Homo sapiens: one gene and its partners. The protein of the gene in region 1 interacts with the protein of each later gene in a pairwise test. Each region holds a gene or a part of one and is shown in the gene's direction. Other genes may lie near its edges. The genes, in order: MET, PTPRJ, TNS3 and SLA2.

Region 1 (7,023 bases):
TTTCATTCTTTATCCTCCTTTGAGACTCGGCTCTAGCATCATTTCCAGTCGAGTTGGTCTCCCTTCCTCTGCATTCTGATAACTGTTAACCATCAAGTGACTTGAGCTTCCCAGGGAAGGGCATCATGTCTTTGTAGACATCCAATAAATGTTAGTAGAAGAAAGGGGGGTCCTGCCAATAATCATATGTCTTTCCCACAATTTAAACTCCTTTTCACCCTGTTACTACTTTTTGCTTGTCTTCCCTTTGATAAACATTCTACTTCTTCATCACCCATTCCCTCAATTTAACATCTGATACTACTATAGAAACTACTGCCTTGAAGATCAACAAACGGGTTCCATGTGGACCAACGTCCTCCTTGAGACCCTCACTTGGCTTTTGTGACACAGTGCAATATTTGCTCTCTTGATGCCTCACTGACCTTAACCTTCCTTGACTCCTGCATAGATTTCTCAACTGTGGGTATCCCCTAAGATTTAGGCCATTTGCCTTCTCTTCTTTCATCTAGTCCATTCATGAACACACCCATTCCTGGTTTTAACCATCACCTCTGTGCAGATAATGTGCAAAGTTTATTTCTAGTCGGAGTGGAGTCTCTGTTACTCTGCCAATCAAGTTCTAAATTTTTATTCCTTCTAGTGCAGCAGTGGCAAATACCTGACACTCATGTGTCTCACTCAAGACAGATACTGTTTCACCCAAGACTGATCATGCCGCTTTCCCAGTCAAGGCAGGCTTCTCAGAATCCTTCTCATTTCCGCCTCTGTTCTTTGGCACTAATGCTCTGTCTGCCCAGAGTTTTCATTCTTCACTTGTTCCAGGCACCTGCTTCCTGGTGAATAATGTAAAACCTGCTAGTCATCCTTATAGGAGAATATGCACTCATTTCCCAGCAGCACACCCGACTCAACGTGGTTAAAACCAATCTACCATTCCCATATATTCAGCCTAACTTCCCAGTGCAGTCTACCCTAGTTTTATAACTTGTTCTACTTTTTCCAGATAACTGCTAATCATCTTTGTTTGTCTTTGCTTTCTTTTTTGCACTGTGTTTGATATATTAGGGTATCAAATCCTACTTATTCAAATATGTCCCTTATTCATTCCTTCTATCCTTGGTGCTACCATATTTGTTCTGGCTCTTGTTACCTCATTATGGGATATAAAAATAGCCTGTCAACTGGTCTTTCCATTGCCAGGATCTCTCTGTTCTAAGCCACCCTGCCTCCAGATCAATCTTCCTAGAGTAAAACCTTCATTGTATGACGGTCTAGCTCAAAATTCCTTAATGATTATTAATCACCTCTTAAAGTCCCCAATTCTTAGACTATTAGTAGGGTAAAATTATTTTTGATTTGGAGTCAAAAAATTTTGGACGCAAATTTTGGCTACTACACTTAACCATTATGTAACTTCGAATTTCGGCTTAATTTTTATTCATCATTTATTCAGTATCTATTTGTTTAACACCTTCTGCATCTCAGGCTCTGTACTAGGTACTTGGGATACAATGATGAGCCAAGCAGACCTTGTCCTTGCTCTCCTGGACCTCACAACATGGTGAACTTGTCTCTATTGCTCATGATCATAATAATCCTAAGTACAGGCTGTGCTTTTTTCCCTTGATACTTGTAGCTTTTGGTTTGTGCTATGCAGGGTATTGTAATACCATTTGCAGTGCCACAATAATCAGCATATATGTGTTATCACTCAGCCACATTGCAGCTTCACTGAAGGGCAGGGGCTATGTCCCATTTCTCATAGCGCAAGCACAGTGCCCTGCACATACCAGCTGCTCAGTGATTTCTGATGTGGTTTTTGTAGATCCAGGGTTAGTCTTTGGCAGTCATGATGCCTAGTATGTTTTTAGAGGCTCCCTTTGTCCTATCAGAATTATGCTATTTAAAAAAAAGTCATACCTATTTAGTTTATATTCATTCTAAGGCCTCTCCTTTCCAACCTACTACCCTGCCTATAACTATTATAAGGAGAACTCACAATGTTTATAACTTGTGCACCTTAAGTTTTAAATACTGAATAACAGGCCCATTCATGTTTCCTCATAGAAATACTGTCTATATGCATACAATGAAATGTTAAAATAATGTTCTTTTTACTAAATAGCTTTTTGACTTGGTAATGAACAATATGTTGTTTTTCCCTGAGAAGTAGTTCTAGGACTTTAGTTCTGAAGATTATGTTGTATTTTATACATTTTCAGCCTCCTGTTTTTCAGTTCCCAGTGATCTTACATTAAACATTTGTCTGTCTAAAACAATAGGTTAACTATAGCCAAATTATAACCATACCATTCCTCTCCACACAAAATCCTATAAACAGCATGTGATCATATTGCTTCTAGAATTTATGATTGTTTTCTTCCAAAAGGAAGCTAAATTTAGCCTAGTAATTCTACATGCGCTCAAGAAAACAATGCCTGCTGTGATTTCTAGAATAAATGAATGTGAACCACAGTTCCTTTACTTGACTAACAGAGAAAGTTTAAATATCAACCTAGTCATTAACCACAGTTATTAAACCACGTTAAACAACCAGCAAGGGGTTAAGAAAGAAAGTTGCTATGTTTTTTCTTTCATTGCTGAATGAGTCTAACTTAGTTACTGTATCAACCTTAATACAGAACATTGTTTGCATCTCAATGGTTCTCTAAAATTATTCGTTCATGGCTTGAGTTCTAAAATTAAACTATGTGGAGTCATGTCCAACCGCACAATGCATCTTTATGTGAAACTTGCTAGAGTTTTTGTTTTCCTTCTATGTAAAAGTCCAGTTGGGAAGCTTTATTTCTGATAGATTAAATGGTATAGGTCTTTCAGTTTTCTCTTCATTTCTGACAACTGAACTGCTCTCGCCTTGAACCTGTTTTGGCAGATAAACCTCTCATAATGAAGGCCCCCGCTGTGCTTGCACCTGGCATCCTCGTGCTCCTGTTTACCTTGGTGCAGAGGAGCAATGGGGAGTGTAAAGAGGCACTAGCAAAGTCCGAGATGAATGTGAATATGAAGTATCAGCTTCCCAACTTCACCGCGGAAACACCCATCCAGAATGTCATTCTACATGAGCATCACATTTTCCTTGGTGCCACTAACTACATTTATGTTTTAAATGAGGAAGACCTTCAGAAGGTTGCTGAGTACAAGACTGGGCCTGTGCTGGAACACCCAGATTGTTTCCCATGTCAGGACTGCAGCAGCAAAGCCAATTTATCAGGAGGTGTTTGGAAAGATAACATCAACATGGCTCTAGTTGTCGACACCTACTATGATGATCAACTCATTAGCTGTGGCAGCGTCAACAGAGGGACCTGCCAGCGACATGTCTTTCCCCACAATCATACTGCTGACATACAGTCGGAGGTTCACTGCATATTCTCCCCACAGATAGAAGAGCCCAGCCAGTGTCCTGACTGTGTGGTGAGCGCCCTGGGAGCCAAAGTCCTTTCATCTGTAAAGGACCGGTTCATCAACTTCTTTGTAGGCAATACCATAAATTCTTCTTATTTCCCAGATCATCCATTGCATTCGATATCAGTGAGAAGGCTAAAGGAAACGAAAGATGGTTTTATGTTTTTGACGGACCAGTCCTACATTGATGTTTTACCTGAGTTCAGAGATTCTTACCCCATTAAGTATGTCCATGCCTTTGAAAGCAACAATTTTATTTACTTCTTGACGGTCCAAAGGGAAACTCTAGATGCTCAGACTTTTCACACAAGAATAATCAGGTTCTGTTCCATAAACTCTGGATTGCATTCCTACATGGAAATGCCTCTGGAGTGTATTCTCACAGAAAAGAGAAAAAAGAGATCCACAAAGAAGGAAGTGTTTAATATACTTCAGGCTGCGTATGTCAGCAAGCCTGGGGCCCAGCTTGCTAGACAAATAGGAGCCAGCCTGAATGATGACATTCTTTTCGGGGTGTTCGCACAAAGCAAGCCAGATTCTGCCGAACCAATGGATCGATCTGCCATGTGTGCATTCCCTATCAAATATGTCAACGACTTCTTCAACAAGATCGTCAACAAAAACAATGTGAGATGTCTCCAGCATTTTTACGGACCCAATCATGAGCACTGCTTTAATAGGGTAAGTCACATCAGTTCCCCACTTATAAACTGTGAGGTATAAATTAGAAATAAGTATCAGTCTCAAAAAGAATATCCAGGGCTTCTTTTGTGCTTTGTAAATGGTGTTTATCCAAAATAGTTGCAGATTTTTTCCAAGAAAATTGAGGAATTGAATCTTCATTTACACCTAAAATTATATCTTTAAAATGTAAATGGTAACTAAAAGAAAAATGTTTTTACAATTCAGATTTGCATGTTCGTGACATTTCAGATTATATTAAAGTTATTTCCCATATAAGCTTTTTTATATTTACACAGATTTTATCAGATTTACACAGATTTTATCAGATTTACACAGATTTTTATCACAGCAGCAATTCCCATAAAACATAATTATTGACATTTCTATATAATCTCTGCAACATTTACAAGATGTTCAAGCTAATTTGTATGCCTTAAAGAATTGTTCCTTATGAGATTATATTCTCTCACTGATACACAACTGATTAATCTATATTCTTGACATTACTTAAAGGAACTTAACTTTAAAAAACCTCTTCTGAAATGCTGGTAAATAAAACATTTTTAAATGAGCTCGTATACTTCTCTAAATAACCTGTAAGAGTAGAGAGGAAATGTTTGTTCCCAAGTCCTTCCTTTAGAGCTTGACTTTAATCATGGACTTCCTTCTGGAAAAGACTTGTGTCTACCAAGTTCTAGCTTGGCACTTTACCTGGTTGGTATTTGTTATTTATAAGCATAAATATTTTGGTTGATGATTATTTATACTTATATGAAATGGTATTTTCTTAGGAGCTGTTAGAGATATTCTTGGTGCTGTGATTTAAATATAGTAACAGCTACCAGCTATACCTGGAGATTTATCCTGCTAGTCAGTTGATCACCTGGTCTGAGTGTTTATTGTGGCTTTGAGTTTCTTGATCTGGGCCAGATTTGGAATACGGACCTGACTATGACCATCATTGAATGAACAAATAGTATAGCTTTTCTAAAGACAGTTTGACTTTGGCATGGTATGTTTCACTTACTTTAACAGGTTTCAATCTAAGATATAAAGGTTATAATTGCAATCAGGTAGAACATTAAACATGTCCTCAGTAGCATAAAGTATATAATTTGCTGAGGGGTAAAGGCATATGAATTCAGAGACATTTGGTTGACTTTTGCTGAAATGTCTGGGACACTTCTCTAGATGGAAACTATAGTTAACTTTTTATGATGCTAGGAAAATACTTCCAAGAAAGTCAGTTCATCTTTTGGTGAACTAAAAACAAAACTTCCTTCCTCTCTCTTCCAAAGTCTATGAATATACATAACATAAATGCACATACATTCCAACTAAGACTTATTTCCCCCTACATACATTTAATATATGTTGCAAAGAAGCAATAGAATTCCTTATGAAGCTCCCCCTTTTCTTTACTAGAAACTACAAAAGAATGAAAGGAAACAAAATGATTTTCAGAAACCTGGGATTAGGAAATAAAAATATAATATTAATAGCATTACAGAGAAGATATTTTTCTGCATCCAGTAAGTTGATTCTGAGACACAAGTTTTAAAAGAGTCTATTAGGAATTCCTCCAGGGCTCCTAGAGCACATGGATTTGCTATTTAAATCTTTCTTTGTTAAAAATTAAAAAGAAGGGTAGGGCAAGAAAAAAATTAAAAAGAGAATTCATAAAGGTATATTGATATCTCATTTTTTAAATTTTGTACATTTCAATCCTTAGATGTAAAAATACTTATCAATTCTAGAAATTCTCAAAACACATCTGAATTTTATCCTACCCTTTTGACTTTTTTAGTGTTCCAAGGGAGACAAACAGACAGGATTAGCCAATGAAATTCAGGTCAGTTTTATCGCCCAGGAAAAATTCCCAAAATGCACTAGCCACACCTGAAACCATTATCACTCCCATCACAAAAATTCTTGCGGGAAACAAGATGGAACTTGCCAACATAGTCTTCTTACAAAGGAAGCCAACTTTTACACTGGCCAAATTCCATAGACAAATACCTTCAAACCTCCTCTATTTATTTGCCTGTTTATCTTCTCTGGTTACAAAGATCAAAATTCTTCTGAGACTGAGACTACACATATTCTCTCTCTCCATATACCCCATCCAGACCTCAGATTGTTCCAATAATGAGCATATAATCATTTCCTAGCTTAATGCCAAAATGAAGGCACCTAGAGCCATTCATCACACACAAAAAAAACAAAATGATTACAAGATCAAAGCTGTTTAGCAGGACTCTCAAGCAATAAGATGACTCCATTTTGTCTTGGCAGATTTACTTGGCCAGAAATCAAGTGACCCTTTTAATAATTTCTTGGAACTGAGTTTTTACTTTGGCATCAAGTTTGGTGAAAAGACACACATATTGTAGTTTTGTTATTAACATCTCTAATACATTTATAAAGGGACTCTTGTGGACAAGGTTAAGAAAGCTGAGCTGCAGCAGTAACTTTCTACTTATGCTTCTGCCCAGTCCTCAGTGTTGACACATTGCTGAAAGAGGGATTTCCTGGCACTCCAAGAGCTCTCCACCATGTGCAAAAAGTGTTTCTATCACAAGATCAGATAATGGGAGTGCCAGGGACGGGCCTTTTACATTTTAGGGGTCCAGCAGGTGTACCAGGCCTGACTTGCTTGTTTAGGATCACATATTTTGTTGCTTTTCCCAGTCTCACATTTCATGAAATATGTCTATGCAAACTCTTCACATGCATCTTCTCATATTGATGACATCACAAAAGCCCTCTTTTGAGTCATTTGATAATTCCCAGTACTCGTCATCTTCACCCATAAGCTATTTGTGCTTCAGAACTCTTTGTCTCCACATATGATGCTGTTTCTGGAAACTTATCCCAAGCCACAAATGCCCACTTATAGAATACCAGTGT
Region 2 (6,915 bases), on another chromosome or scaffold:
GGCTTCTATGAGGAAGTTTTGGAATGCATCCAGGAGCCCTCCACTCCAGGTTCTTGGTTTATTAGCCTTTTGGTCCTCTATTTATCTAGCCCTCTGTTCAGTAAAGCTTTAGGTTTGTTTGAAGGAGACATGATTAGAAGGTCAAATATTGTATATTCTCAAGGCGAATGTGTCCTGAACTTTGCATAGTAGAATTTATTCCTGAAAAGTTGTTTGCAGATGGAATTTGTTTTGTGCGTGAGAGAACAGGCATATACAGAATACCTTAGTTTGCTATTTAATTTAAATCAATATTATCTGAGTGACTGTTATTTGCTGAGGATACAATGATAAACAAGATGCAGACCCCATCTTCAAGGGTCTTAGAGTCCAGCGAGGAAGGTGGTCAAATAAACAGGCAATTACAAAATTGTGGTTAGATAAGGTTAAGCACAGGGAGCTATGGTGGATGGAGGAGGAAGTGCACCCAACTCAGTGTTGGGGCATCTTGGAATTTCTAGGTGAAGTGACATGTGATGGAGAAACCTATAGACTGGAATATAGTCTCAAATCCATTGCAAAGGGAATGATCCTTCCCCAACTTATCTTCGTGGAAAAATAAACTTTCTTTCTTTCTTTTTTTTTTTTTTTTTTATTGAGATGGAGTCTTGCTCTGTTGCCCAGGCTGGAGTGCAGTGGTGCGATCTCGGCTTACTGCAACCTCCGCCTCCCAGGTTCATGCCATTCTCCTGCCTCAGCCTCCCGAGTAGCTGGGACTGCAGGTACCTGCCACTGCGCCTGGCTAATTTTTTCTACTTTTAGTAGACGGGATTTCACTGTGTTAGCTAGGATGGTCTCCATCTCCTGACCTTGTGATCTGCCCACCTCGGCCTCCCAAAGTGCTGGGATTACAGGCGTGAGCCACCGCGCCCAGCCGAAAAATAAACTTTCACATCATGTTACCCCTGGATACATTTTTGTGGCCATGCATCTGCACGAATATTCAATCCCTGCTACAGGCAAGACACTGAGTGGGACGTTGCAGGGCTACCAAGGTGAGGAGGTCCCAACCCCTGTCCTCAAGGAGTTGATGTAACACCTACCCAGGATTAATTTCATTTCTCTCAGAGGTCATTAATCCAGTGTGATCTGTTTATGGCTGAAGAGGTAGTTTATTATTCAGGTCTTCACTCCCTTTCCTGAAAAGGCTGTTTATTTTGTTTCATCACTGTGCAGTGGCGAAATCCAGTTCCAACCAATACTTAAGCTGGGCATACATTTTACCCAGGAGAAAACTGAAGGGCGTGCAGGAGTTCACAGAGCTGTTTGCTGACCCAAGCCATGAATCTGTGGAGACCTGGGTCGGTCTTCAGGGTTAGTAGGGTCTGTAGGGTCTGTGAGGATCCGAGGCAGCCTGCAGACCTACTATCATCTTCTTTTTCTTTTTTATAATTGGCAATCATCCTTGGCTACCCAGTAGCATCTTTTTTTTTTTTTTTTGAGATAGAGTTTCACTCTTGTTGCCCAGGCTGGAGTGCCATGGCGCGATCTCTGCTCACTGCAACCTCTGCCTCCTGGGTTCAAACGATTCCCCTGCCTCAGCCTCCCGAGTAGCTGGGATTACAGGCATGCGCCACTACACCCAGCTCATTTTGTATTTTTAGTAGAGACAGGGTTTTTCCATGTTGGTCAGGTGGTCTTGAACTCCCGACCTCAGGTGATCCGCCCACCTTAGCCTCCCAAAGTGCTGGGATTATAGGCGTGAGCCACTGTGCCCAGCCCCCTGGTAGCATCTTAAATCAAGCTTTCCTTCCCTCTGGGTATCATGGACATGAACACCTTTTATGTCTCTGCCTCAAGAGGGGAGGAGGCACAGAGGAACAAAAATCCTTGTGAATTATGATAATTACATAGTGTTTAAATGAAGGGTGGCAAGGTGTGTAAGTCCATAGGTAAGGTTTCTTTTTTCTTTTTCTTTTCTTTTTTTTGAGATGGAGTCTCACTCTGTCACCCAGGCTGGAGTGCAGTGGTGCAATCTTGGCTCACTGCAACCTCCGTCTCCCGGGTTCAAGCGATTCTCCTGCCCTCAGCCTCTGGAGTAGCTGAGATTACAGGCACGCCATCACGCCCAGCTAACTTTTGTATTTTTAGTAGAGATGGGTTTTCACCATGTTGGCCAAGCTGGTCTCGCACTCCTGACCTCAAGTGATCTGCCTGCCCCGGCCTCCTGAAGTGCTGGGGTTACAGGTGTGGTGTGAGCCACCACGCCCAGCCTCTTCTTTTTTTTTTTTTTTTTTTTGAGACAGGTTTTCACGTTATTCCCCAGGTTGGAGTGCAGTGTTGCCATCTTGGTTTACTGCAGCCTAGGTTCAAGCCATCCTTGTATCGGCCTCCCAGGTAGCTTAGTCTACAGCTGTGTGCCACCACACCCGGCTAATTTTTGTAGAAACTGGGTTTCACCCCGTTGCCCAGGCTGGTTTCGAACTCTTGAGCTTAAGTGATCTAGTCACCTTGGCCTCCGGAAGTGCTGGGATTACAGGCGTGAGCCATCGTGCGGCCTGGCAAAGTTTCTTTATCCTCAGTGCTTGTCTGGGTGTGTTGTCTGGTGGGAACCACTTAGACCCTGTAAGTGAATGTGTATTCCCATCTTGTAGATGGTAACCTGAGGCCCAACGGGTGTCTGGAGGTAGTGTTGGACACCTCGTGGTCTGCATCTTGCTGCACACAGAATCCAGCCTAGACTCATTATCCTGGCCTTTGAAGTCTCCCCCAGTATGAATCCCCCAGCCTCCCATTCCTGTTTCTCCGAAGGCCAAGCTCGAAGCATCTGCTGCCTCGTTTCTGCCAAGTTGGCCCCACCTCCTGAGACACTTCTCCCCTCTACTGGCCTGGTGAAACTCAACACATCCTTCAAAGCCCAGCTCAGGTGTCACCTCTCTCCTGGTTGGAATTAACCTCTTCCTCCTTAGCACTCTCTGGTTTGGCCCTTTCTCTTGCGGCTTCTCCTGGGCAAGTGGCATAGCCTCCCTGATCCTAGTGTCTTCCTCTGTGCATGGGCACAGGAGTAATATCTGCTGTGATCTTTAACTCCTGTCAGTTCATTGACCTCTTTAACAACGTGATGAAAGCTTCCAGAAGAGCTAATGTATGTGGAGTCCCACGATGTGTCAGGCTAGGTGTTTAGGACTTTACTAACTACTGTCTCGTTTAATCGCGAATGCAGTGGACCTCTCTCTCCACACGTCCTAGTACGATCTTTATTTCACACGGGAGGAGAGGAGGGTGGGTGGGGTCGGCCAGAGAGGAGAAATGCGTCTCCAGAGTTCACAGGGCTGGTACTACCAGCAGAGCCCCGTCCACCATATGCCACAGCTGGGGTTCTAATCCCTGGACTGGCTTGTACTGGGCTCTCTGCCTCCCTGGCCGGCGCTCGGGGGCTGGGGGACAGAACACAATGTACAGCGTGCCTTCTACAATTTCGGGGTTCACGCACCCCCAAGCCCACCCAGGGCCAGGTCAAACGCGCCTTCGCCGGGTTGCTGTCTACAATCAGGCTTGGCTGCGCTCTCAGTAGGGGTCTCGGTCAACCTCTGCCCACCCGAACCCGGCGCCGTGGACCTGGTGTGAGGCTGGGGAGCCCGTCCTGAGGGGTGCCGGCTCGAGGCGCTAGAGCCACGGAGCCTGGTCCCGGGCTCCAAGTCCCAGGAATGTGGGAGGGCTGGGCGGAGGGGCGGGCGAGGCGGGAGCGCTTCCTCTGCCCGCGGGAGGGGATCCGCGGCCGGCTCGGAGGGGGCGGGGGCAGCGGCGGGCGGCGGCGAGGGGCTGCGGAGCTCCGCAGCCGCCGGGCCGGCCGGGGCGGGAGGAAGCGATGAATATTCAGAGGGGGAGGGGAAGGGAGGGGGCCGAGCGCTCGCCGCGGCTCCCTGCAGCAGCCCCAGCCGCATGACGCGCGGAGGAGGCAGCGGGAGCAGCCGCGGGAGCCGGGACCGGGTAGCCGCGCGCTGGGGGTGGGCGCCGCTCGCTCCGCCCCGCGAAGCCCCTGCGCGCTCAGGGACGCGGCCCCCCCGCGGCAGCCGCGCTAGGCTCCGGCGTGTGGCCGCGGCCGCCGCCGCCGCTGCCATGTCTCCGGGGAAGCCCGGGGCGGGCGGAGCGGGGACGAGGCGGACCGGCTGGCGGAGGAGGAGGCGAAGGAGACGGCAGGAGGCGGCGACGACGGTGCCCGGGCTCGGGCGCACGGCGGGGCCCGATTCGCGCGTCCGGGGCACGTTCCAGGGCGCGCGGGGCATGAAGCCGGCGGCGCGGGAGGCGCGGCTGCCTCCGCGCTCGCCCGGGCTGCGCTGGGCGCTGCCGCTGCTGCTGCTGCTGCTGCGCCTGGGCCAGGTAAGCGCCGGGTGGGCTCGGGCGGGGGGCAGGAGGCTGGGGCGGGACTGGCATTGACTGCACCTGCCCGAGCGTACCCCCCCGGGGGGTTCCGGGGAAGGGGGCGGGGGTCCGGATCCCCGGATCCCCGGAAGGCGACTTGCGGGGACCCCGGCCGGCCTCGCACGCCGGCGATCGATCCCTTTTCCGGCTGCCCAGGATCGGGGGAGAGAGGCGGGATCCGGGTGCCGCGGTGCCCGAGCCTCCCGGGGAAAGCCTCCGCGCGGGCTCCAGGCCGTCCCTGGCCCGGCTCTTCCCGGCGCTGGGCACATCTGGCGGGCACGGGCCCGGCTTCCTAGCCGGAGGCGGCCGGAGGGGGCGTGTTTGCGGAGGTCTGGGGACGCAGAGCCGGGCGGCCTGGCTGAGCCTTTGCCGACAGACCTCCGACCCGGCCTGCAGGGGCCCGAGGGGCGGCGGGGGCGACAGGGCAGGGCCAGGCGCTGGGCAGTGGGGCCCTGGGCGAGGCGCGGGACTCCGGGCCGAGGGCCCTGTTCCTGGGGAAAGTTCCCAGGCCGGGGAAAAGGTGGCCGCACGCTGGCTTTTCTCAAGGCAGCCGGCCCTCTTGGCGTCGTGCTTGATTTCATGGGTGTTTAATTCGTGCTTTGTGGGCGCTGGCTCCCCCTCCCCACCCCACCCTCACCCTCTTTTCTGGCTTCACTTTTCAGATAATGCTGTCCCTGGCGTTTTGGTGACCGACCTTTCCCCTTCCTGGCATTTCCATAGGGGCTGAGGCAGAGCAGCTGAAGGGGCATTCCCATTTCACAGATGGGGAACTGAGGGAGAGAAGTGAAATAGCGGAGCACCCAGCCCGTGCCATGGGAGCTGAGCCAGCGGGCACGTCCTCTTAGCCTCTGGAGCCTGTTGGGGTTTGAACCCGCAGGGGAAGCGGTCTAGGGCTGCCTTGCTGTGCGTTTCTGCAAATGACCATCTTGCTTGTTTTATACAGACACCATCTCTGAGGAAATGAGTTATTGGCTGGGGATGGAACCTGGTTTCAGGGAAAACTTCTCCAGCGCGAATACAGGAGAGAGCAGAAGCATCACCCTGGGGCAGCAATGCCGCCTAGCAGGCTGTAGGAGAAGGGGGCTGGGGCCTGGGGGCTGCGTGACCCTCGGCACCCAAGGGTCTCTCCTCGCAGTTTCCCCAGCAGGTTCTGCACAGGCTCTCCTGGGGGCCAGAAGGCAATGTGACCTCCTGCAGAGAACCTGGGAGTAGATGTCAGGAGACTGGCTCCAGGGCCGGGCCACAGGGCTGGACTTGCTCTTCAGGCTTCTCTACCCTCAGTTAACCGCATCTGTAGAATGAGTATAGCACCCTCTGCCCAATGGAATTGTTTGAGGGGCTTCCACTGGCCAATGTCTAAAAGAACTTTGTAAATATTAAGGGTTTCCACATGGGATTCTCATTATTAAGGTACAGTGCCTGTGGGGGCTGTCTTCTCCCTGTCCATGTAAGGAAATTCAGGGAAGCAGTGTCTGAAGTTAAAAAAGCCTTGTATTTGAAGATTTCTTGTATCAAAAGTTTATGCTAAAACAAAAACCACAAAAAACAGAAAACCCCCAAACTTAAAGCTTCATTTATTTTTAAATGTATAATATATGTAATTTTTTTTTTGCTTCAGCAAAAAAATTTTAAATTATATATATATAAAATTTATTTATTTTTGCTCCAGCCATAGTGGTTGCTAGCTGTGTTCTCAATCAGCAAAAAGTTTCTTGGGTAAATTTATTGCTTGCTCAATCCTTCCTTGTATTTCATTAGCATATTGCCACTCTACACTTGTCCTGTATTTAGATATTTCCTTCCTCTATGGTTTGTTCTGTAGAACCTCAAAAGGACTCTCTTATTTCTTTTTTTTTTGGACACATTATGAAATAGGAAGTCTAAAAGGCTCCCAGAAGAAGCATCTTCAAAATCCACATTCAGCAGTTCATTTTGATAATGGATATTTCAGGGAATCAGTGCATTTTTGAGCTGGACCAGACTTTCAAGACAGCTGAAACCCCTCAGAGCTCTTAGATGAGGATATTGATGTCCAGAGAAGACAGGGAGCAGGCTGAGGTCACCCAGCAAGGTATTAGAGAAGACAAGATGGGAACCTGGGTCACCGGCCTGGGCCTCATATTTTCAAAGTGCTATTTTTTTTTTTCCCGTGTTTTCACTTTGATCTTACTTTTAATGATAGGGACGTATCACTGTGTCTTCTCAAAATGGTGGGTGTGAATGGAATTTTTCAAAGTTGAATCAATTTGAGATATTTCTGAAGTTTGTTTAGGAAACAAGTATGTGACTACCTTCCTAAGAGCTGACTGGTTTTTTGAGGCCTGGATTGTGTGTGTATGTGCTTATGTGTGTGTTATAAAATGGAATCAACTATACCAGGTTAAACAAATGGACAAGTCATGGAAAAGACACAGCTCTGTTTGGACATTAATAAGGGCGGGTGTGGAAGCTGGAAAGCTGAGATGCCGGAAGGCTCAGTGCTTAGTAGGCCCGGAAAAGCAATTTTTGAACTGG
Region 3 (7,682 bases), about 69 Mb from region 1:
AGGGCCATGGGGCTGGCACAGGGCACGAAGTCCCTGTAGGTATGTTAAGAAGAAGAGCATGGGCCGGGCGCGGTGGCTCATGCCTGTAATCCCAGCACTTTGGGAGGCCGAGGTGGGCAGATCACCTAAAGTTGGGAATTCAAGACCAGTCTGACCAACATGGAGAAACCCCGTCTCTACTGAAAATACAAAAATTAGCCGGGCGTGGTGGCACATGCCTGTAATCCTAGCTACTCAGGAGGATGAGGCAGGAGAATTGCTTGAACCTGGGAGGCGGAGATTGTGGTGAGCCAAGATTGCGCCATTGCACTCCAGCCTGGGCAACAAGAGCAAAACTCTGTCTACAAAAAAAAAAAAAGAAGAAGAAGAAGAAGAAGAAGAAGAAAAAGAAACTGAATCTGCATCCATGCAGTGGGCATCCACAAAGTGGGCTCCCAGGGTCCATGTTTGTAGAAGTTGGTGTGCAGGTGCAGTTTTTGGAAACAAGGTGCTGTATTAGGGTTCTCCAGAGAAACAGATCCAATAGGGCATATGCAGATCTATAGAAGAAATTTAATTAATTAATTAATTCATTTATTTTTGAGACAGAGTCTCACTCTGTCGCCCAGGCTGGAGTGCAGTGGCGCATTCTCGGCTCACTGCAAGCTCCACCTCCCGGGTTCACGCCATTCTCTTGCCTCAGCCTCCCGAGTAGCTGGGACTACAGGCTCCTGCCACCACGCCTGGCTAATTTTTTTTTTGTTTTGTATTTTTTAGTAGAGACAGGGTTTTACCGTGTTAGCCAGGATGGTCTCGATCTCCTGACCTCGTGATCTGCCCGCCTCGGCCTCCCAAATTGCTGGGATTACAGGCGTGAGCCACTGCACCTGGCCTAGAAGAAATTTATTATAGGAATTGGCTCACACAATTATGGCTCACACAACTATGTCTGCAAACTGAAGACCCAGGAAAGTTGGTGGTGTAATTGCCAGTCTGAGTCCAAAGGCCTGAAAACCAGGAGCACTGATATTTGAGGGCAAGAGAAAATGAATGTTCCAGCTCAAGAAGGAAGAGGAAGAACTCACCCTTTTTCTGCCTTTTTGTTCTACTTGGGCCCTTGAAGGACTGGATGGTGCCCACCCACACTGGTGAGGATGGATTTGCTTTACTCAGTCTACCCATTCAAACGCTAAGCTCTTCCAGAAACACGCTACCCACACACCCAGAAATCACATTTTACCAGCTATCTGGGCAACCCTTAGCCCAATCAAGTTGACATCTGACATGAGCCATCACAAACACCAAGGTTATGTAAATTCCGAAAAGGTTCTGAGACACGGAAAAGCTCAGGTGCCTCTAGCCAGGCCTGGCAACTGTAAAGCCCACTTTGTTGAGCTGTAGGTGAGGATTCGTGTGTTTGGGAAGAGAAAAAGGAAGAGAGGAAAGGGCCAGGTGTTCTAGTAAGAGTCTCAAGGGACTTAGTATCTTTTTTTTTTTTTTTTTGAGACAGAGTCTTGCTCTGTCACCCAGACTGCAGTGCAGTGGTGCGATCTCAGCTCACTGCAACCTCCGCCTCCTGGGTTCAAGCGATTCTCCTGTCTCAGCCTCCTGAGTAGCTGAAACTACAGGTGCGTGCCACCACTCCCAGCTAATTTTTGTATTTTTAGTAGAGACGGGGTTTCACCATATTGGCCAGGATGGTCTCGATCTCTTGACCTTGTGATCTGCCCTCCTCGGCCTCCCAAAGTGCTGGGATTATAGGTGTGAGCCACTGCGCCCGGCCGAGACTCAGTATCTTAAGGCAAAACACAGGCATTTGCTCATGTTCCAACTCCACAGTTCTCTGAATGCGCTGTAGAGCTTTGTAACTCCATCCTGTGTAATGTTTCCTGCTGTCTCTTTCAGTTGGTCTTTGGGAAATATTTTCAGTGACAGAAAGTAAGAAATAAGGAAAAATATCCAAGTCCTTGCTCATATACCTCCCTTGATCTAGGGATACAAATTCAGATTTTTGCGGTGGCAAAGACAATCTTCATTGCAATGACAAGCTTCCAACACATCTTCTAAAACTCCTACAGGGGAGGAGCAAGAATGAGTCTGCAAAGAAGGGCTCAGGGAGGAAGGAGATTGGCGGGAGTTTCTTGCCCAGACTCCCCTGCCCTCTGCTTGGCATACTAGGAGGGAGAGGCCACTCTTGGCATATTGCTGCTTTTTTTTTTTTTCAGCTAAATGTTGGAGACTTTTGTTTTCAAAGTTGAGTTTTTTTTGGATGGCTAAGGATGGAAAAAATGCACATTCCCTTTTTCAGATACTGGTTCATGCCCTGTTTTTGTTTAATTTCTTGGAAACTTGAAGTTGCAGCCTGCGAAGTGGGGAGGCCCTGGGCTGGGGAAGCGAAGCTCTGGAAGGGGCCCAGGTCCCGATTGGGGATCCAGAGAGGCTTCCCTTCATGTGCCTCTAGACGAGGTGTGGGGAACCCGGGGAACAGCCATCCCAGCCAACACAGAGTGCGTGGGGATACTGGAGCCCGGTTTTTCTTCTCCTTTCTTGGGACACTGCCAGGGAATATAACCACAGACACTGCACGAATGAGCACCCAAGTCACAGTTTTTCTAGAAACAAAGGTGTGGTTGGGGCATCCCATTCCATTGCTACCCCAACAAGGGCAGTGTGGCCGGTGGGGCCATCTGGCTTGGGTGTGGGTAGCAGTTTGGAGAGATTTTAGAAGAGGCTCCCTGACAAAGGGTCAGAGAACCCCAGCACTGCACTGAGTTTTCCTGACTGTGAGCTCTCAGACAAACAACAGTGTCACCTCCTGTAAATGGGTGCCCTAACACTGCAAGAAGCTCAAATTCATGTTGTCATTCAGCCAACATGGTTTTTGGCATTATGATGGTTTCTGTGATGCACAGAATAGCACGTAATTGGCTCTGGGTGTGAAGATCACCACGGTCTTAATGGAAGAGAGGGTTGAGCAAAGTGATGATTTAGTCCAATTGCACAGAGTGGATGGTGTGGGCAGGCAGCTGGGAAGAAGTTAAGAGTAGCCTCAAGGCCAGATAGTCCTGATCCCTCCCACTTTCTTCGCCTGACCAGGTGGGTGACCTTGAACAAGTTGCCTAGAATGTCAGATCCTGTTTCCTTATCAGGACAAAGGAGATCGTAACAGTACCAGCCTCACCCCCATTCCTAACCCAGCTGGCTGTGACCTCCTCCCCACCTTCCCCTATGGCATCTTCCCTGGCACCCCTTGACTCATCTCATTGACTCTTGACCTGGTGTCTCCTAGAGTGTAGGAAAAATGCCTGCCTCATCTCTAGGGGCTGGGGCATGGTGCTCATGAAGCCTTTGCCTGGGAATAAATACCCAGATCAGTCTGGGGATGAGAAATGACACTACCTTCCAGAGCACAGCAGGGGTTGTTCAAGTCTTCCAGAAAAGCAGCTCTTGTTTCTCCTCATGTGGTGGGAGTGGAGTCAGAGCGTGGCTCAGGCCCCACATTCTCAGCTGTTTGGATCTGGGGACTCGAAGTTTCTGGTGGTTACTTCTGAAAGTCTTTTCCAGGATAATTATTCTTGCTCGGTTTCTCTGCCATCTCTGACAGGCTGTTTTCCCTGCTTCCCCCGCTGCCCTGAAGGGGCCAGAGGAACAGGGCAGGACCCCAGGGCTGCGGATGGGTTAGGCAGCTCTGTTCCCGAATCCAAAGCAGTTCTTGGTGACTGTCCTCCAAGACTTGCCCTGGACCCTGCTCCGGGTGGGATTCTGAGACCGCCTGCTCCACGTGGCAGATGAAATCTAGGTCTCTTCTGTGAGAGGCTGGCGGGGAGGATGTTTTCCTGGAAAGGACCACAGGACAAACCGCTGATGAAATTTCTCTTGTGACCTCCCTGGAGGAAGAGCACTTCTGATTTCTGCAAACTTTTTCCATTCCCCCGATCTCACAAATGGGGAAACTGAGGCTAAGCGACTGAGTTCAGGGCCATCTGAATCTCAGGGATGGACAGTCAGGATGGACAACCTATAGGCCTTTCCTCCTCTGAGAATCTCTCTGCTCGGGATCGTTTTTCTGGTTTCCCCTGGCTTGCCTAAATTCTGCTCATTTGTCCCGGCGCATTTTAAGAAGTCATGTGACTTCTAAAGACTTCCCTGACCTCCTCCCTTCATTAGCTGGGTATTTCAGGGGCTTCTACGGCACCCTAGGCTTTCCGGAGCGGCTGTGCTCCTTTATGTATGCGCGACTCCCACTAGGCTATGAGCTACAGGAGGGAGGGTAGGTCTTGCTCCCGGAGAGCACCTTAATCACAGGCGCTGAATGAAAGAATGAACTGGTTGTGCAGGAACCAGGATCCGAACCCGCCTCCCCAGGTACTCTAACACCGGCCCGGCGGAACCTGCAAGCCTCCAGACCACTTGGAGCCTGGGCTGCTCAATGGGTCTGATAATTCCAGGTCCTCTCTGCGGCCAGCGAAGGGAGGTCCCAGGGCGCACCTCGGCAGGGCGGGGGACCCCGGTGAAGGGCGCCTGGAGGCGCGCTGCATTGTTAGGGTGATGAGGCCAGGTGACCCGCCAGGCTCGGGGCGCGGGCGCGGGGGCCGGCCGTGGCGATTGCCCGCGCCGCCTCGAGGGGGCCCTGCCGCGGGCGCCGGCAGCCAGCCAGGAGGACGGGCCCGCCCGCGCGCTACTCGGAGCCCAGCCTCGTTGCGGCCATCGCCCTGCCGGACCGCGCCTCAGGCTCCCCCAGGTACTGGGGCCGGGGAAGGAGGAAACGCGGCCACGCGCCGCGGTCCTCTTTGTTTCGGGCCCGGCGCGGGCTTTCGCGCTCCGGGCGCAGGAACGAGGCTTGGGGAGCACAGAGATCTGGAGCTGGGGCGCGGGGACTGAGTTCGGGGAGCGCGGAGACAGAGTTCGGGGAGCGCGGGGTACGGGAGCTCAGGGCGCGGGGATGGGGTCACGGGAGAACCCAGGTTAGGGAGCGCGGGGACCCGGTTGGGGGCGCACGGGCAAGGGGTTTGGTGCGCGCGGGTACGGGGTTTGCGGCGCGTGGGGGGCGGGGGCTCGGCAGGAGTCCCAGGACAGGGGCTGGGGCGCGGGCCAGCTTCGCCGGAGTCCGGGGACGGGGGCGCTGACTGGCTGGGTTTGGGGACTGGCTGGGGCGCAGGACCACTCGAGTGGGACCCGTGGCGCCCGGGCGCCCTGGACTGAGGGCAGAGACCGGAGCAGCTATGTCGCAGTCGCTGTCGGGACCGAGCGGACTTTGCTCCCTAGGACTCCGTCTCGAGACTCCAGGTGGAGAGCGCAGCTAGGGGCTTCAATGGGCAGGCTCAAGACCCTTCTCCTACTTTTTCTAGGCAAGCTCTCCAGTGCGTCTCTTTCCCTTTCCCTTTGGTGGGTGGGAGGCAGGGGGTCTTTACGCGCTTCCTTTTTTTCCCTGAAGGACGGGACCTCGGGGTGGGGGGATATTCTGGGGTGGGGGGTGCTGTCCCAGGCTGGGGGCCAGCTGTGTGGCATGTGCCTCCTGGCACGCGGGAGCTGTCGCTGACAAGCAGGAGGAGGGAGGGTCCCGGACGGCCCAGGGGTCTCTGTGTCGGTGCTGTGCAGCGGCCTGACATGTGAGTCCCGGGTCCTTTGCTTGGAGTGATTTGAGTGTCTGTGGCGGGAAGAGATTCAGGCGTTCCTCAGGCATTCTCCAGACAGTGTCAGCAGATGACCCGAACTCCAGCGTGGTTGAAAAACTCAAAGCGCCATCAGGGTGTGGGGCCAGCAGAGAGCACTACTGAGGGTGGTCACAACCCCCTGGGAAGCCCCCAGGCTTCCTTGGGGCGCATTCACACACTTTGATCTTCCGGGTTGGCTTTCCCCCCATTTTTTTCACTATTTGAATGCATGATCATGGAGGACTCTGAAAATATACTGAAAAGTATGAATGCAGAACTCATTGTATTAATATTGCATGGCCCTTCTGAACTAACCAACCCTTTGACATTTTAGATTTTCTTGAGGCTTTGGTCTGTGCATATTAATTTTTTAAATTGCTTTCATGCTTTCCCTTTTGAATGAGGTTTACTTGTTCTGGTGATTCTGGTTCTTCTCTCTTTGGGGCCTGTGAGGTTATATTTGCAAATCAATCAACAAGTATTAAGAAAGGCTTTTCTGTGCTGAGGCCTTGAGGGCCAGGGAGGGGGTGGGGAGTCGCTGCAGCTGGAGGGTGGAGGGGCAAGGCCATTACACAGAGATGGAGGTGCACTGGGTCCTGGTGGGGGTGTGGTAGCACAGGGGGTGGGGGGTGTGTACACAGGGAATTGACAGGAGGAACTGGCAGCAAGCCCGACTCCTGACCTTAGGAATAGTAATGGTGACCCCGAAGACAAAGTAACAGGCATACCGATTGAGTGTTTGCCTGTGCTAAATGCTTTGCATGCATTCATTTCATTTCACCCAAATTACATTCCTTGGAGGGAGTTGGGATTATGATTACCCCATTTTACAGACGAGTAAACTGAGGCAAAGGAAGGCTAAGTAACTTGGCCGAGATGAAATGAAACATGGTGGTAGTGCAGCCTGGGATTCTGGGACAGGACTCTAGGGTCCCAGACCCCTGTTCCTGGCTGCTGCTGCGCGTCTGTCGACTGAATTCTAATGCATGTCCAGACAGCGATTCCTCAGCTGAGGCTGCCATAGCTATCAGCAGCTCAGCTGAATTATGTCTTTAAAAAACTACCAAGATAGAAAAACTAGTAGCCCCAGGGCACTACTTATTCCTGAATGCAAATTGATTTTTTTTTTTTTAACAAAGTGTCTCTTTGGCACCTAATGTTTTGAAAGTGAGCTGTTTGCAAATGTGACTCTGGAAATAAAGGGCAGGAGAGGGGGTGTCAAAGTATGCTCTTCCACTGCAGGAGGTGTTGCTGAAGGGGATAGCAGAGACCTGAGGAGGAGGCAGTATGGCAAGAACAGTGAGTGGAAGGGCTGACCTACCATTTGGCAGTCGCAGCTTATATCTGCTTAGGACTCTACACAAGGACCCATTTTACAGATGAGTAAAATACCAAGTAAATTCTTAAAGTCTGGGAACAGTTAGGGATCTGAATGAGCCCAGTTCTCTGACTCTATGTGCCCCATTCCTTTCTTAAGATCAGCCTGTTGTAAACCACCCCTGTTCAGGGGAAGCCTCTTGTTCCCTCCCTGTGTCCCTGTGTATGAACTTGAGAGGGGGAGGAACTTTCCACCTTCCTGAGGGCAGAAAGCATTGTTTAGATCCCTGCCACTTACTAGGAAGCCAGAGACATTTGCTGAGTGCCTCAGCAGCACGCTTAGAATTGAGGCTTCGAGGCTTCCTCACAGCGGCCCCCATAGATTTCCCAGGGAGGGGCCTCCTGTCTTGCGGGTTGATCTGGTGGGTTTGCCCCATGCAGCAGGAGCTATCATGGGAAGGGTGGGTCTGGGCGTCTGAAGCTCTCCAGGAGGTCAGCTGACCCTGGGACCCCGGGTCCTTCCTGTAGGACCCCAGAAATCACTGGGGAATCAGCTAACCCCTGCAAGCTGTGCCTGGAATGACCTAGAGCCAGTCCTGTCTACCTAGAATCCTCTGCTGCTATCCTTGTTGATCTAGAATGAGGGATGCTGGTTAGTTGGTTAATTAAGTAGGTGGTTGATTAACTTAGTTACTCTCTTCCTCACAGCAAGAGTATTAAAAACCATCACAA
Region 4 (7,023 bases), on another chromosome or scaffold:
TTTTTTGAGATCAAGTCTTGCTCTGTCACCCAGGCTAGAGTGCAGTGGCATGATCTTGGCTCACTGCAACTTCCACCATGGGTTGGCCAGGCTGGTCTTGAACTCCTGGCCTCAGGTGATCCACCTGCCTCGGCTTCCCAAAGCGCTGGGATTACAGGTGTGAGCCACCGCACCCAGCCAATGTTCAGCTATTGATTGATTGAGACAGAGTCTTCCTCTGTTGGCTAGGCTGGAGTGTAGTGGCACAGTCATGGCTCACTGCAGCCTCAACGTCACAGGCTCAAACGATTCTCCTGCCTCAGCCTCTGGAGTAGCTGGGACCACAGGCATGTACCACCATGCCTGGTTAATTTTTAAATTTTTTGTAGAGAAAGACTCTCACCATGTTATCCAGGCTTGTCTCAAATTCCTGGCTGGGCTTAAGTGATTCTCCCACCTCCACCTCCCAAAGTTCTTGGATTACAGGCATTAGCCATTGTCCCTGGCCAATGTTTAGTTCTTATTTTTAAAATAAATTTTAATTTTACATTTATCCTCATTGTTAAGCAAGTGATGTTCAGTTTTTGTTTTTTGTTTTGTTTTGTTTTGTTTGAGATGGAGTCTTGCTCTGTCACCCAGGCTGGAGTGCAGTGGCGCGATCTCGGCTCACTGCAACCTCTGCCTCCCGGGTTCAAGCGATTCTCCTGCAGAGATCCTGCAGTGAGCCGAGATCGCGCCACTGCACTTCAGCCTGGTGACACAGCAAGACTCCGTCTCAAAAAAAAAACAACACTATAGCCTTTTTCTGCTGTTTTTAGAACCTTCTGCTACTATATCTACCACTTACACCACCACATCCATAAGCACCACCATAGGGACTGCCTGAGCTTCTTCCACCAAAACTGCCTCCTTTCATAGGTCCATAATTTGATTGCTGTTGTCCACTATAATTGCTAAAATCATTATAGTTCCCATCACCAGCATAGTTACCAGCGCCAAAATTTCCTCCTTCATTGTAACCATCATATCCTCCGCCACCGCCACCATATCCACCACCTTGGTTTTCATATCTTGCTCCACCACCACAGCAGCCCCGTCTACTGCTATAAGCAGGCTCACCATCATTGATGCCACCATCACCTCCTCCATAACTACCTCTGCTGCCACCATCTCCACCACCACAGTCTTCTCTTCCACCAAAGTTTCCACTGCAGCCAAAATTACCTCTACTACCTCCAAAGTTTCCTCTGTAACCTGTAAAATTGCCAGATCCACCTCCACGACTACTTACCATCCAGCAGGCTACCTCTGTTATTTAGTAAGGGCCTTTTTCACTTCACCATTATGCCCATTAACAGTGTGGTATTTCTGGCTGGGCGTGGTGGCTCGCACCTGTAATCCCAGCACTTTGGGAGGCCTAGGCGGGTGGATCACGAGGTCAGGAGTTCGAGACCAGCCTGACCAACAAGGTGAAACCCTGTCTCTACTAAAAATGCAAAAATTAGCCAGGCTTGGTGGTGCACACCTGTAATCCCAGCTACTCAGGAGGCTGAGGCAGGAGAATCCCTTGAACCTGGGAAGCGGAGGGTGTAGTAAACCTAGATTTCACCACTGTACTCCAGCCTGGGCAACAGACGGAGACTCTGTCTCAAAAAAAAAAAAAAAAAAAAAAGCCAGTGTGGTATTTCTGAACAATTTTAAAAACTATATCTTGATCATCAAGTTACAAAAGCAAATCCTTTTTTCGACTCTGCTTGTCTTCCATAACTTCTATGGTTTTAATCTTGCCATACTTTTCAGAGGTCTCTCAAATTATATTCTTCTGTATCTTCTTTATTTTATTTATTTTATTTTTTTGAGACAGAGTCAAGCTCTGTTGCCCAGGCTGGAGTACAGTGGCGCAATCTCGGCTCACTGCAACCTCTGCCTCCTCGGTTCAAGTGATTCTTAGCTCCCTGAGTAGCTGGATTACAGGCGCCCACCACCACGCTCAGCTAATTTTTGTATTTTTAGTAGAGATGGGGTTTCACCATGTTAGCCAGGCTGGTCTTGAACTCCTGACCTCGTGATCTGCCCGCCTCGGCCTCCCAAAGTGCTGGGATTACAGGTGTGAGCCATCGCGCCCAGCATTGTTTTTATTTTTTCTTGAGGTGGAATCTCGCTCTGTCGCCCAGGCTGGAGTGCAGTGGCATAATAATTGCCTCTGCCTCCTGGGTTCATGTGATTCTCCTGCCTCAGCCTCCTGAGTAGCTGTGACTATCGGCTCACACCACCACACCTGGTTAATTAAAAAAAAATTTTTTTTTGGCCAGGCACGGTGGCTCACACCTGTAATCCCAGCACTTTGGGAGGCCGAGACAGGTGGATCACAAGGTCAGGAGATCGAGACCATCCTGGCTAACATGGTGAAACCCCGTTTCTACTAAAAATACAAAAAAAAATAGCCACGTGTGGTGACAGGCACCTGTAGTCCCAGCTATTTGGGAGGCTGAGACAGGAGAATGGCGTGAACCCAGGAGGCAGAGCTTGCAGTGAGCCGAGATGGCGCCACTGCACTCCAGCCTGGGTGAGAGAGCGAGACTCTGTCTCAAAAAAAAAAAAAAGAAAAAAATTTGTACAGACATGGGAAGGGGGTCTCTATGTTGACCAGGCTGGTCTTTAATTCTTAGCCTCAAGTGACCCTCCCACTTCAGTCTCTCCAATTTTTTTTTTGACACAGAGTCTTGCTATATTGCCCAGGCTGGAGTGCAGTGGCGTGATCTTGGCTCACTGCAACCTCCTGCTCCCAGGTTCAAGCAATCCTCCTGCCTCAGTCTCCCAAGTAGCTGGGATTACAGGCGTGTGCCACCATGCCTGGCTAATTTTTGTATTTTTAGTAGAGATGGGGTTTCACCATGTTGGCCAGGCTGGTCTTGAACTCCTTACCTCAGGTGATCCACCCACCTTAGCCTCCCAAAGTGCTAGGATTACAGGTGTGAGCCACCGCACCCAGCCTTTTTTTTTTTTTTTTTTTTTTTCCCCCAGAGTCTCACTCCATTGCCCAAGCTGGAGTGCAGTGGCGTGATCTCAGCTTACTGCAACCTCCACCTCACAGGTTCAAGCAATTCTCTTGCTTCAGCCTCCCAAGTAGCTGGAATTACTGGCACCAAGCCTGGCTAATTTTTTTGTATTTTTTGTAGAGATGGAGTTTCACCATGTTAGTCAGACGCATCTCAATCTCTCGACCTCAAATGATCTGCCCACCTCAACCTCCCAAAGTGTTGGGATTACAGGCGTGAGCCACCAAACCTGGCTTCTAGATACTTTTTTTTTTTTTTTTTTTTTTTTTTTTGAGATGGAGTTCACTCTTGTTCCCTAGGCTGTAGTGAAATGGTACAATCTCGGCTCACTGCAATCTCCGCTGCCTGGGTTCAAGCAATTCTCCTGCCTCAGCCTCTCAAGTAGCTGGGATTTATAGGCATGTGCCACCATACCTAGCTAATTTTATATTTTTAGTACAGATGGTCAGGCTGCCTTGTTGGTCAGGCTGGTCTTGAACTCCTGACCTCAGGTGATCCAACAGCCTCTGCCTCCCAAAGTGCTGGGATTACAGGCTTGAGCCACTGCGCCCAGCCTAGATACCTTTTCCTTATTAATTTCTAATTTAATTCCATTGTGGCCAGACAACATATTTTTAATGATTTCAATCCTTTTAAATTTGTTGGCCGGGCACAGTGGCTCACAGCTGTAAACCCAGCACTTTGAGAGGCCAAGGTGGGCAGATCACAAGGTCAGGAGTTCAAGACCAACCTGGCCAACATAGTGAAACCCCATCTCTACTAAAAAAACAAAAAAATAGCCGGGCATGGTGGCACGTGCCTGTAGTCCCAGCTACTTGGGAAGCTGAGGCAGGAGAATCACCTGAACCTGAAAGGCGGAGGTTGTGGTGAGTCAAGATCATGCCACTGCACTCCAGTCTTTTGAATTCTATTGTCTGATATTAATATCCCACTAACATTCTCCCATTAATAAGCCATTCTAGCTTACTTATGGTTGTCTGCATGATATATCTTTTTTCCATCTTTTTACTTTTAGCCTTTTTTTTTTTTTTTGAGACGGAGTCTCGCTCTGTCACCCAGGCTGGAGTGCAGTGGCACGATCTCGCCTCACTGCAACCTCTGCCTCCTGGGTTCACGCCATTCTCCTGCCTCAGCCTCCCGAGTAGCTGGGACTACAGGCGCCCGCCACCACGCCCGGCTAATTTTTTATATTTTTAGTAGAGCCAGGGTTTCACCGTGTTAGCCAGGATGATCTTGATCTCCTGACCTCGTGATCTGCCTGCCTCAGCCTCTCAAAGTGCTGGGATTACAGGCTTGAGCCACTGCGCCTGGACTAATTTTTTTGAGACGGAGTCTCACTCTGTCGCCCGGGCTGTAGTGCAGTGGCTGATCTCGGCTCACTGCAACCTCTGCCTCCTGGGTTCAAGCGAGTCTCCTGCCTCAGCCTCCTGAGTAGCTGGGATTACAGGCGCACGCCACCACGCCTGGCTAATTTTTTGTATTTTCAGTAGAGATGGGGTTTCACTGTGTTAGCCAGGCTGGTCTTGATCTCCTGACCTTGTGATCCGCCTGCCTTGGCCTCCCAAAGTGCTGGGATTATAGGCGTGAGCCACCGCGCCCGGCCCATTAACTTTTGTTTTAATTTTTTTTTTTTTTTTTTTTTTTTGAGACAGGGTCTCACTCTGTCATCCAGACTGGAGTGCAGTGGCACAATCTTGGCTCACCGCAACCTTCACCTCCCGGGCTCAAGCAATCCCCCTGCCTCAGCCTTCAGAGTAGCTGGGACTACAGGCATGAGCCACTCTGCCCAGCCTTGTTTATTTATTTTTTTAATTGAGATGGAGTCTCGCTCTGTTGCCCAGGCTGTAGTGCAGTGGTGTGATCTCGGCTCACTGCAACCTGTCTCCTGCGTTCAAGCAATTCTCCTGCCTCAACCTCCCAAGTAGCTGGGACTACAGGCGCACACCACCACACCTGGCTAATTTTTTTTTTTTTTGTATTTTTAGTAGAGGCAGGGTTTCGCCACATTGGTCAGGCTGTTCTTGAGCTCCTGACCTCAGGTGATCCGCCCACCTCGGCCTCCCAAAGTGCCGGGATTACAGGCGTGAGCCACTGCACCCGTCCCCGGCCTTGGGTTTTTTATTTATTTATTTATAGAGTCTTGCTCTGTTGCCAAGGCTGGACTGCAGTGGCACAATCTCGGCTCACTGCAACCTCTGCCTCCTGGGTTCAAGTGATTCTCCTGCCTTAGCCTTCCAAGTAGCTCGGACTACAGGTGTGCACCACCACACCCAGCTAACTTTGGTATTTTTAGTAGAGATGGGGTTTCACCACGTTGGCCAGGGTGGTCTCGAACTGGGATTACAGGCGTGAGCCACTGCCCCTAGCCTGTTTTAATATTTTAAATGTGCTTATATGGCCAGGCACGGGGTGGTTCACGCCTATAATTCCAAGTACTCAGGAGGCTGAGGCAAGAGGACTGTTTGAGCCCAGGAGCTGTGATCATGCCACTGCACGCCATCTGGGCAACAGAGCGAGAGCATGGCTCTAAAAATAAATTAAAATCTGGCTGGGCGCGGTGGCTCATGCCTGTAATCCCAGCACTTTGGGAGGCTGAGGCAGGCGGATCACGAGGTCAAGAGTTCGAGACCAGCCTGGCAAATATGGTGAAACCCTGTCTCTACCAAAAATACAAAAAATTAGCCGGGCGTGGTGGTGGCAGGCGCCTGTAGTCCCAGCTACTCGGGAGGCTGAGGCGGGGGAATCACTTCAACCCAGGAGGCGGAGGTTGCAGTGAGCCGAGATTGCACCACTGCACTCCAGCCTGGGCAACAGAGGGAGACTCTGTCTCCAAAAAAAAAAAAAAAGAAAATTAAAATAAAAAAAAAAAATGAAAAAATGAAACATGCAAAGCTGGTGAAACTGTCATTCATCAGTGTATGTAATGTATACATGTAGGTTGAGCAGCACTAATAAAACTGACATCCACGCGCCCACTTGCCAGCTGAAATTACCTAACAAGCCCTTTGTAGCCCCCTCTCATGCTTCACTGTGTTAATCATTCAGTTGCTTTTCTTCAGAGCTTTGCCGTGTGTGCCTGTGCAACATATAATGTCATGTTGGCTATCTTTGAACTTTAAATAGAATCAGGCTGAATGTATGCTCTGTAATGTTTTTCTGCTTAATTTCCAAGATTTCCTTATGCTTATATGTAGCAGTTATTAATTTTTACTGCTGTATAGCACTACACTCTATAATCCACAATTTATTCTACTCTTGAGCACAAACGGGCTGTTTGCCGTTTTTGACTTTTACAAACAATGCCGCTGTGCATATTGCTTGTGTGCTTCTGAGGTATTGTGCCTGGGAAGAACTGCTGGGTTGTAAGGTACGTGCATGTTCAGCTCATCTAGTTAATGCCAAACTGTTTCCAAGGTGGCTCGTACTAATTTCTCTTCCACCAGCAGGGTGGGAGGTCCTACTTCTCCACTTCCTTGCCAGCATCTTCTTGACAGTGTTTTTGCATCCTAACATATCTGCCACCTGAGTCTTTGTAAGAACAGCCAACGCTGAATGTTCACTCACACAGTGCCAGACCCTGTACTGAGGGCTCTGTGTGTGATTTGATTTCACCCTCACAAGACCCCCATCTATTATGAACATATTATTGATGACCAAGAGAGCAAGTCTTTGTCCTGCTTCTGCCCCAGACACTTCCCTTCTGCCGGGGCCCCATGGTCACGTTGCCTATCTTCGTTTCCCAGCCTAGGTGGGGCCGAGTCCCAGCAGGGCCTCAGTGCCACCCCTGGACCCCTTTCTCCTCAGGCTCTTACTCTCTGTCAGTCCGCCTCAGCCGCCCTGCATCCTGGGACCGGATCAGACACTACAGGATCCACTGCCTTGACAATGGCTGGCTGTACATCTCACCGCGCCTCACCTTCCCCTCACTCCAGGCCCTGGTGGACCATTACTCTGGTATGGCCTTTCCCTGCCTCCAGGACTAGGC

Evidence for each region.
Region 2: the proteins of MET (region 1) and PTPRJ interact in binary tests that used the Homo sapiens proteins (3 or more experiments, as listed by UniProt).
Region 3: the proteins of MET (region 1) and TNS3 interact in binary tests that used the Homo sapiens proteins (3 or more experiments, as listed by UniProt).
Region 4: the proteins of MET (region 1) and SLA2 interact in binary tests that used the Homo sapiens proteins (3 or more experiments, as listed by UniProt).

Annotation. Positions count from the first base shown.
Region 1 is NC_000007.14:116,696,175-116,703,197, forward strand, and holds part of MET (hepatocyte growth factor receptor isoform b preproprotein), read left to right. Parts: intron 1-2,896; coding exon of another isoform or gene 2,897-2,910; coding exon 2,911-4,110; intron 4,111-7,023. UniProt on the Homo sapiens protein: Receptor tyrosine kinase that transduces signals from the extracellular matrix into the cytoplasm by binding to hepatocyte growth factor/HGF ligand. Regulates many physiological processes including proliferation, scattering, morphogenesis and survival.
Region 2 is NC_000011.10:47,976,650-47,983,564, forward strand, and holds the start of PTPRJ (receptor-type tyrosine-protein phosphatase eta isoform 1 precursor), read left to right. Parts: upstream 1-3,909; 5' UTR 3,910-3,921; coding exon of another isoform or gene 3,922-4,263; coding exon 4,264-4,359; intron 4,360-6,915. UniProt on the Homo sapiens protein: Tyrosine phosphatase which dephosphorylates or contributes to the dephosphorylation of CTNND1, FLT3, PDGFRB, MET, KDR, LYN, SRC, MAPK1, MAPK3, EGFR, TJP1, OCLN, PIK3R1 and PIK3R2. Plays a role in cell adhesion, migration, proliferation and differentiation.
Region 3 is NC_000007.14:47,579,089-47,586,770, reverse strand, and holds the start of TNS3 (tensin-3), read left to right. Parts: upstream 1-4,659; 5' UTR 4,660-4,720; exon of another isoform or gene 4,721-4,898; intron 4,899-5,072; exon of another isoform or gene 5,073-5,265; intron 5,266-6,875; exon of another isoform or gene 6,876-6,920; coding exon of another isoform or gene 6,921-6,932; intron 6,933-7,682. UniProt on the Homo sapiens protein: May act as a protein phosphatase and/or a lipid phosphatase. Involved in the dissociation of the integrin-tensin-actin complex. EGF activates TNS4 and down-regulates TNS3 which results in capping the tail of ITGB1.
Region 4 is NC_000020.11:36,615,194-36,622,216, reverse strand, and holds part of SLA2 (src-like-adapter 2), read left to right. Parts: intron 1-6,842; coding exon 6,843-6,992; intron 6,993-7,023. UniProt on the Homo sapiens protein: Adapter protein, which negatively regulates T-cell receptor (TCR) signaling. Inhibits T-cell antigen-receptor induced activation of nuclear factor of activated T-cells.